Homo sapiens: one gene and its partner. The protein of the gene in region 2 interacts with the protein of the main gene of each other region in a pairwise test. Each region holds a gene or a part of one and is shown on either strand. Other genes may lie near its edges. The genes, in order: RNF34 and CASP10.

Region 1 (3,817 bases), on a different chromosome or scaffold from region 2:
CGATGGCACGATCTTGGCTCACCGCAACCTCTACCTCCCAGGTTCAACCGATTCTGCTGCCTCAGCCTCCTAGTAGCTGGGATTACAGGCATCTGCCACCATGCCCGGCTAATTTTGTATTTTTAGTAGAGGCAGGGTTTCTCCATGTTGGTCAGGCTGGTCTCGAACTCCTGACCTCAGATGATCCGCCCGCCTCGGCTTCCCAAAGTGCTGGGATTACAGGTATGAGCCACCACGCCTGGCCATGAACATAATTTCTTTACATTCATTTTAGCACTGAAGTGCCAGGTAACACCCACCCCCGCTGCCCTTCAGTGAAACAGGTGTTTTAGTCCTGTACCTTCGTAGCTGCTGTCAGTACTTCTTGCTAAGGAATTGCCTAGGGTTGTGAAACTGCCCTTAAGAGAATGGTTTTCAGCCTTGGCTGCATGTTGGACTCACCAGGCAAGTCTTTAAAAATACTGATTCCTGGGGTCCCAGGCCCAGAGGTTCTGATTTCACTGGTCTGTGGTGCAGCCTGGGCACCAGAATTTTTTTGAAAACTCCCTGGGTAATTCTGATATACAGGCCAGGTTAAAAGCTTAAGACCTGCTCAGTCAAAGGGAAGATGTCTTCTTCCTGCCTACACTGTTTCAGCTGGGACATCACCCTCCACAAATTCCTGAGTGGAAAGGGCTGTGGTTACTTTGGAAGCCTGTGGCCCTAGAGTTCTGGAACTAATGCCTCGGCAACATACTCCCCAAGACCTGTCTACATGTTTTTCTGTTGTGGGATATGTAGTATTTTGCATCCCACTTTGGTTTTACCCAATCCTTTAAGAAAGGGTCAGCTAAGTTTTGGCCAAGTGTTGTGGTCCATGCCTATAATCCCAGCAGTTTGGGAGGCCGAGGCCAGCAGGTCACCTGAGGACAGGAGTTTGAGACCAGCCTGGCCAACATGGTAAAACCCCGTCTCTACTAAAAATACAAAAATTAGCCGGGCATGGTGGTGCACGCCTGTGGTCCAAGCTACTCGAGAGGCTGAGGCAGGAGAATCGTTTGAACCTGGGAGGTGGAGGTTGCAGTGAGCAGATATCACGCCACTGTACCACTGCACTCCAGCCTGGGTGACCGAGCAAGACTCCATCTCAAAAAAAAAAAGAAAGGGTCACCTGAGTTTTTAACAATCTGATTCTTCAATGAATCCCTTTCCTTTTTACCACAGATTGGCCTGTAACTTTTGCTGGACTTTGGTGCTCTCCTTGATTTTATTTGCTCTTTGCCTTTGGGCCCCAACTTTTATTTCCCACCTTAACTCCTCTGCACGTTTTCTTGTGTGAAATCTCCCAATATGAGGAGAAAGTCAGTGATTTCTGGGTCTATCAAAAGCAGCCATTGTTCAAAGTGTTTTTGTCCTTCTTCACCTCCAGGATGAAGAATCCATCCAGAAGATAAATCCTTCCAAGCCTGGACTCCATCTACCTGGCTCTCCTTTAGTATGTTTCATCTTCCTGTACTTTCTCATAAATTTCAGAAATTTATTCTGCATGCCTCCTCAGGGCAAAGGCATCTCTACCTACAACTGTCACCTTGACACTCACCTAACAGTGCTTGAAGTGTCCTATACTGATCTTTCCCCTCTTAAATCTGTACACATTTTCTAGTTTTTATTTATTTTTATTTTTATTTTTATTTTTTAGACAGAGTTTCACTCTTGTTACCCAGGCTGGAGTGCGGTGGTATGATCTTGGCTCACTGCAACCTCTGCCTCTTGAGTTCAAGTGATTCTTGTGCCTCAGCCTCCCAAGTAGCTGGGATTACAAGTGCCTGCCATCACACCCTGGTAATTTTTTGTATTTTTAGTAGAGACGGGGTTTCACCATGTTGGCCAGGCTGGTCTCGAACTCCTGACCTCAGGTGATCTGCCTGCCTCAGCCTCCCAAAGTGTTGGGATTACAGGCGTGAGCCACCACACCTGGCCATTTATTTTTATTTTTTTAGAGACGGGGTCTTGATATGCTGCCCAGGCTGATCTCAAACTCCAGGGCTCAAGGGATCCTTCTGCTTCAGCCTCCCAAATCACTGGGATTACAGGCATGAGCTACCACGCTTGGCCCACATTTTCTGTTATGACTTGACAGAACCTATAAAAGCAATTGGAGAACTATTTAAAAGACAATTTCCCCAAGGGTTTATTGAATCTGAGCTCTTACAGTGGAGAGGGGGACAAGGGATGGGGGGAACATATGCCAATCTATTTTCTGAGCTCTTCACACTCTGCCTCTGTTATATTTCCTTGGAACCCAGTTACCATATCCGGTAGGGTCATAACCAACAAGGATCCCTCTTCTGCACCCTCCTTTTAAAAGCTTTAGAGACCTAAGTTCATGTTCTTTCCTGTTCCATTTCTGTCTTCCCTATACTTTAAGATCTTCCTCCAGTTAAATTAGCCTGTATTCCTTTATTTTTCTTTTATTCATTCATTGCTTCCATACTGATAGTAAGATTGAAGCATCTTCTACAAACCACTCCATTTCCTCCTAGATTTTGAGAAAACTCAATTCCTGGAAAGACAGCATACTAGGCGTAGCCCTTGGGCTTCCGAATTTGCAGTCAGTTCACTGAGTTGTTGTATACTAGGCATATGCCTTTGGCTTCTGCATTTGCAGTCAATTCACTGAGTTGTTGTATACTAGGCATACCCCCACCTCTGGCTTCTGACAGTATACTAGGCATACCCTTTTGGCTTCTGAATTTGCAGTCAATTCACTGGCCTCAATTCCAAAGTGGTGCCTTCTTTATGGAAGGGTCACCATCCATTATTTGTTCATTGGGGGAAAAAAACCCTACAGTTACTCCTCCGTGAATAAAGCCCAAAGCCAGATCTCTGAAAAGTCTGGAACTTTCAAAATGCAAGCCATGATCTGGGCTTTCATGACCTACTTGGGGACCTTAGTTGGCAGCAAAACTCCATGGGTTATACCACATGCATCCAAGTGGTATGTAAGAAGTATAACCCTTTTTCTAACAGTTTAGAAAGAACAATAATCTGGGGGGAGGGGGAAGGAGGGAGGAAAGGAACAAGGGGTGAAAAACTAACTGTTGGGTACTGTGTTCACTACCTGCTGGCGGGACCAACTGTACCCCAAACTTTAGCGTCACTCAATATACCCATGTAACAAGTCTGTACGTGTACCCCCAAATCTAAAAGTTGAAATTATATTTTTAAAAAAGAACGATAATCGTGAAGATAGCTAAATTTCCTCTCTTGACCATGAATGTAGTTTAAAACAACATAGAGAATAAGAGAATGAGGCAACTGTCTGCCTATGCCTAGCACAAAACTCCAAGCTCAGAGAATTCACCTGTGTTTGGAGTTTATTTTCTAGTCATCAGTGATTACTAAAAATAAATGACTTGTTCTTGATAGTCTAATCCCTTTCCTACCCACTCTCTTAAGCCAAAGCTGCTCTCAGTAGAGCCACCATAGGACCATGGTCTGCCTGGCTTATATCAGTTAAAAACCAGGTATCGTATTTAAAAACTTAACACCAGCCCGGCGCGGTGGCTCACGCCTGTAATCCTAGCACTTTGGGAGGCTGAAGTGGGCGGATTGCTTGAGCTCAGGAGTTCGAGACCAGCGTGGGCAACGTGGTGAAACGCCATCTCTACTGAAATACAAAAAATTAGTCAGGCGTGGTGGCAAGTGCCTGTAGTCCCAGCCACTGGGGAGGTTGAGGCACAAGAATCACTTGAAATGGGAGGCGGAGGCTGCAGTGAGCTGAGATCACGCCACTGCACTCCAGCCTGGGCGACACAGCAAGAGTCTGTCTCAAACA
Region 2 (3,817 bases):
CATCAGTTAAGGCAGGAACAGGCCATTTTCACTTCTTTTGTGATTCTTCAGTTACTTCAGGCCATCTGGATATATATGTGCAGGTCACAAGGGATATGATGGCTTAGCTTGGGCTCAGAGGCCTGACAGGAGGTTTTATCAACAGCATTTTGTCCAACTGAACTCAGAGTCAAGAGCTGGCCTTCTGCTGCGGTAGACATCACGAACCAGTGAGGGAAGAATTAGATCTTACTCAGAGTATGTCAGGGGTAATGCTAGTGCTGAGTTGCCGCTAATAAAGTCAGCTGGAATTACGCACAAAGGAACTTAAGTCCTGCTATTTCTGTTGCAGTTACAACCGGAAGACCCTACCACCTAAAGGCATTTATATGCACCTCAGCACAGTTAGATTTAAATAGATGCACACATAGGACACATTCTTTTTCGTCTTCCCAACAGCTAATGTTTTCTCTACTTTACAGACAAGGCTGAAAAAAGCTAGCTTGATTTAGTTAGTGTCTCTGAGCAAAGGAATCAGGACAAAATGGAAATGCAGGGCTTTGATCTCCAGATCCTTTGCTCTTTCCTCAGTATCTCACCATCCTTCACTTGCCTTCACATGTCAGTTCTGCCAACTGGACAAGGACTGTGACCACTAGCTTTTGGCCCTGACTGTTATGAACACGGTTTTGGGAGATCATCCTGACACATGTGTAAGAATTAAAGAAAGAGGAAAGAAACATGAAAGGTGGCTTGACAGCCAAGGACAGGTTTATTTTAGAGAAAACAAATTTGAAAGGGGCTTCTGGCCGAGTTAGGTCAGAGCCCACTCACTTACAGACTAAGAGTTTTTAAGGATTTAGGGTGGGAGAGTTTATCAGAGGCTTGGATTGCTTCTATGTCTCTTTGCTGTGCTTATCTGGGAGGGAGAGTTGTGTGTCCGTTCCCATACAATATTTCTGCAGCTGTAGGTACACCCCACCCCCCTCCAGTCTGCTTTTAGCTTCCCCACTTAGTGCACCTGAAGGGAAAGGAATGTGCTTATTAAGGCTCATTGTTTTCCTGGAACCCATTGTATGAAGGCAAAGTTTGGCAGTTACCCAAGAGACTTCCCCCACCCCCCCACCTCCCTCTATGCCAGAGCTGTCTTATCTGTATTTTACTCTCTTCTCTTTCTGGCTGCTCGCTGTTAGAAAAGAAGTGATTTCCTTGAAATGCATGAGGCTAGAAAGGGAACTGGAACTTAAAGTGGCGGTGTTTGTCTAAGATGACGGTGTTCCTGCCCTGTCAATATAGATTAGACATTCCCTCTGTCAAGCTACATTCAAATCCACATGACAATCAGAGATATCAGAACAGTGTTCTTGTGAATATTCTTATAACAAATTTACTGTACATGAATTTGACTTTCACATAAATAATTATAAATGCAGGCACCACTGAGAGTTGTTGTTCTTCATTCCTTGACATTTTTTTATGAGCATTCACATATCAAATGAAACACTCCTAATGCCCTTCCACGCCCCAAGGCATTCCAGTTCACCTGGCTGAAGTCAAATCCAGTAAATGAGGACTGTGAGCAGGTTGTTCACATCCCCAGGCCTCAGCTGCCTCATCTATAAATGAAGGCGTTAACCACAGGACTTTGGATCTCCCTATGAGGGCTCACCTTTAAGGATTCAAAATACAGTTCCAGGAATTAACAGAGAAAAAGTTCCTCTAGAAATTGAAAAAAAAAAAAAAAAAAGCTCAAGTACGTAAAAATGCTCAAAATCTTAATGAAGAAAGCATCAAGGCGTCCTTACAGAGCCACTCCCTTCAGGCAAGCCAGACATCCCCTCTGCCAAGAAGAGCCCAGTGATCCTGAGAACAGCTTCAGTTTCTGACACAGCCTCTCTCCTCATGCCTTGGGCCAGAGGAGCAAAGTGTAGTAGCAGTAACAAGGTGGGGACTGTCCACTGCAGTCTACTGCATCTGCCAGCCCTGAGGACATCCGGCCAAGAGAAAGGTGCTGGCCTGTAGATTGAGTCCTGATTCAAGCTTTGCCTGAAGCCAGTGTTATCCACTCCTGGGTTTCAATGTGAAAGAGGCAATAAATTCCCTTCTTTGCTTCAGTCAATTTGAATTGGGTGTTCTGTCAATGGCAACTGAAATGTTCCAACCCCAATATTGAATTTTTTTTTTAAACAAGGTCTCGCCCTGTTGCCCAAGCTGGAGTGCAGTTGTGTCATCTTGGCTCACCACAGCCTCTGCCTCCTGGATTCAAGAGATTCTCCTGTCTCAGCCTCCCGAGTAGCTGGGATTACAGGTGCTCGCCGCCACACCTGGCTAATTTTTGTGTTTTTAGTAATGATGAGGTTTTGCCGTATTGGCCAGGCTGGTCTCGAACTCCTGACCTCAAGTGATCTGCCTGCCTTGGCTTCCCAGAGTACTGGGATTACAGGCATGAGTCACCGCACCCAGTCCAAAATGGAATATGACATCAGGTTGTAAAGTTTCTGCTTGCAGAGCAGCTGAGTGTAAATGAGCCATCATCTTCCTACAGGGAAACCTGTCTCTAACCAAATAAAAACTTCCTATGTGAGCACCTTCCTTACACAAAAGCAGGAAATGGGCCTGGCATAGACCAAATTTTCACCTCACTAGATGTGCAAAAGAGAAGTCTTAGGAAGGGGGAGATCAGAGAGAGGGTGGGTGGACTGTGACCTCACTGTCCAATGTTTAAGGGCATGCAGAGGGGACACAGAATTATAACTAAGGGGTAGTTGTCTAGAGAGGCAATCTAAGCTCAATCTAGGCTAAGAACGTGGTTTTTGAACACCAAGGAACCTTAAAATGCACCTGGTCCCCAGGCCAGGCACAGTATTTCATGCCTGTAGTCCCAGAACTTTGAGAAGCTGAGGTGGGAGGATCGCTTGAGCCCAGGAGTTTGAGACCAGCTTAGGCAACATAGTGAAACCCCATCTCCACAAAAAAAATAAAAAGTTAGCTGTGCATGGACACACACCTGTAGTCTCAGCTACTTGGGAGGCTGAGGTGGGAGGATCGCTTGAACCTGGGAGGTCAAGGCTGCAGTGAACAGTGATCCCACCACTGCACTCCAGCCCAGGTGACGGAGTGACTCTGTCTCAAAGAAAAAGTACCTGCACAAACCAAAGCCAATTACTCTGTCTTCAGAATAGACATCCAAAACCAAGGCTACAATCCAAGTCTTCAATAATGAAAGTTTTCTGGCCAGGTGTGGTGGCTCGTGCCTATAATCCCAGTATTTTGGGGACAGAGGTGGGAGGATCACTTGGGCCTAGGAGTTTGAAACCAGCCTGTGCAACAAAGTGAGATCCCTCCATCTCTACAAAAAATAAAGAATAAAAAAAATCCGGGCACGGTGGTACACACCTGTGGTCCCAGCTACTTGGGAAGCTGAGGCGGGAGGACAGCTTGAGCCTGGGAGGTCGAGACTACAGTGAGCCGTGATTGCCCCCCTGCACTCCAGTCTGGGTGACAGAATGAGACTATCTCCAAAAAAAAGAAAGTTTTCTAACATTTAGACTTGCAAAAGAAAAAGAAAATCAGAATTGACTGTGTCAGAAAACACGGTGTTTCCTGTTTCTAGAATGACAGGTGGAGACCACCGATTCCTGTGCTGGGCAGGAGGCTGGAGGTTATAGCCAATGATTCGTTTGAGGTCTAAGAACCAACAAAAACTCTCTGCTATAATGAAAGTGCATCCAGGGGCACAGGGAATACTAGTTTTTTCCTTAGTGTGAAAGCAGGCTGGGGCATCTGTTTCTTTGTTCCCTGTTTGTCCACTCTTCGACTCACATCATCGTTGACAGCA

The links.
Region 1: the proteins of CASP10 (region 2) and RNF34 interact in a two-hybrid assay, tested with the Homo sapiens proteins (one study listed by BioGRID and IntAct).

The regions. Positions count from the first base shown.
Region 1 is NC_000012.12:121,406,301-121,410,117, reverse strand, and holds part of RNF34 (E3 ubiquitin-protein ligase RNF34), read right to left. Parts: intron 1,658-3,817; exon of another isoform or gene 1,643-1,657; coding exon of another isoform or gene 1,409-1,642; intron 1-1,408. Other genes in the region: KDM2B (lysine-specific demethylase 2B), read left to right, coding at 1,409-1,642. UniProt on the Homo sapiens protein: E3 ubiquitin-protein ligase that regulates several biological processes through the ubiquitin-mediated proteasomal degradation of various target proteins.
Region 2 is NC_000002.12:201,217,615-201,221,431, reverse strand, and holds part of CASP10 (caspase-10 isoform 1 preproprotein), read right to left. Parts: coding exon 3,691-3,817; 3' UTR 1-3,690. UniProt on the Homo sapiens protein: Involved in the activation cascade of caspases responsible for apoptosis execution. Recruited to both Fas- and TNFR-1 receptors in a FADD dependent manner. May participate in the granzyme B apoptotic pathways.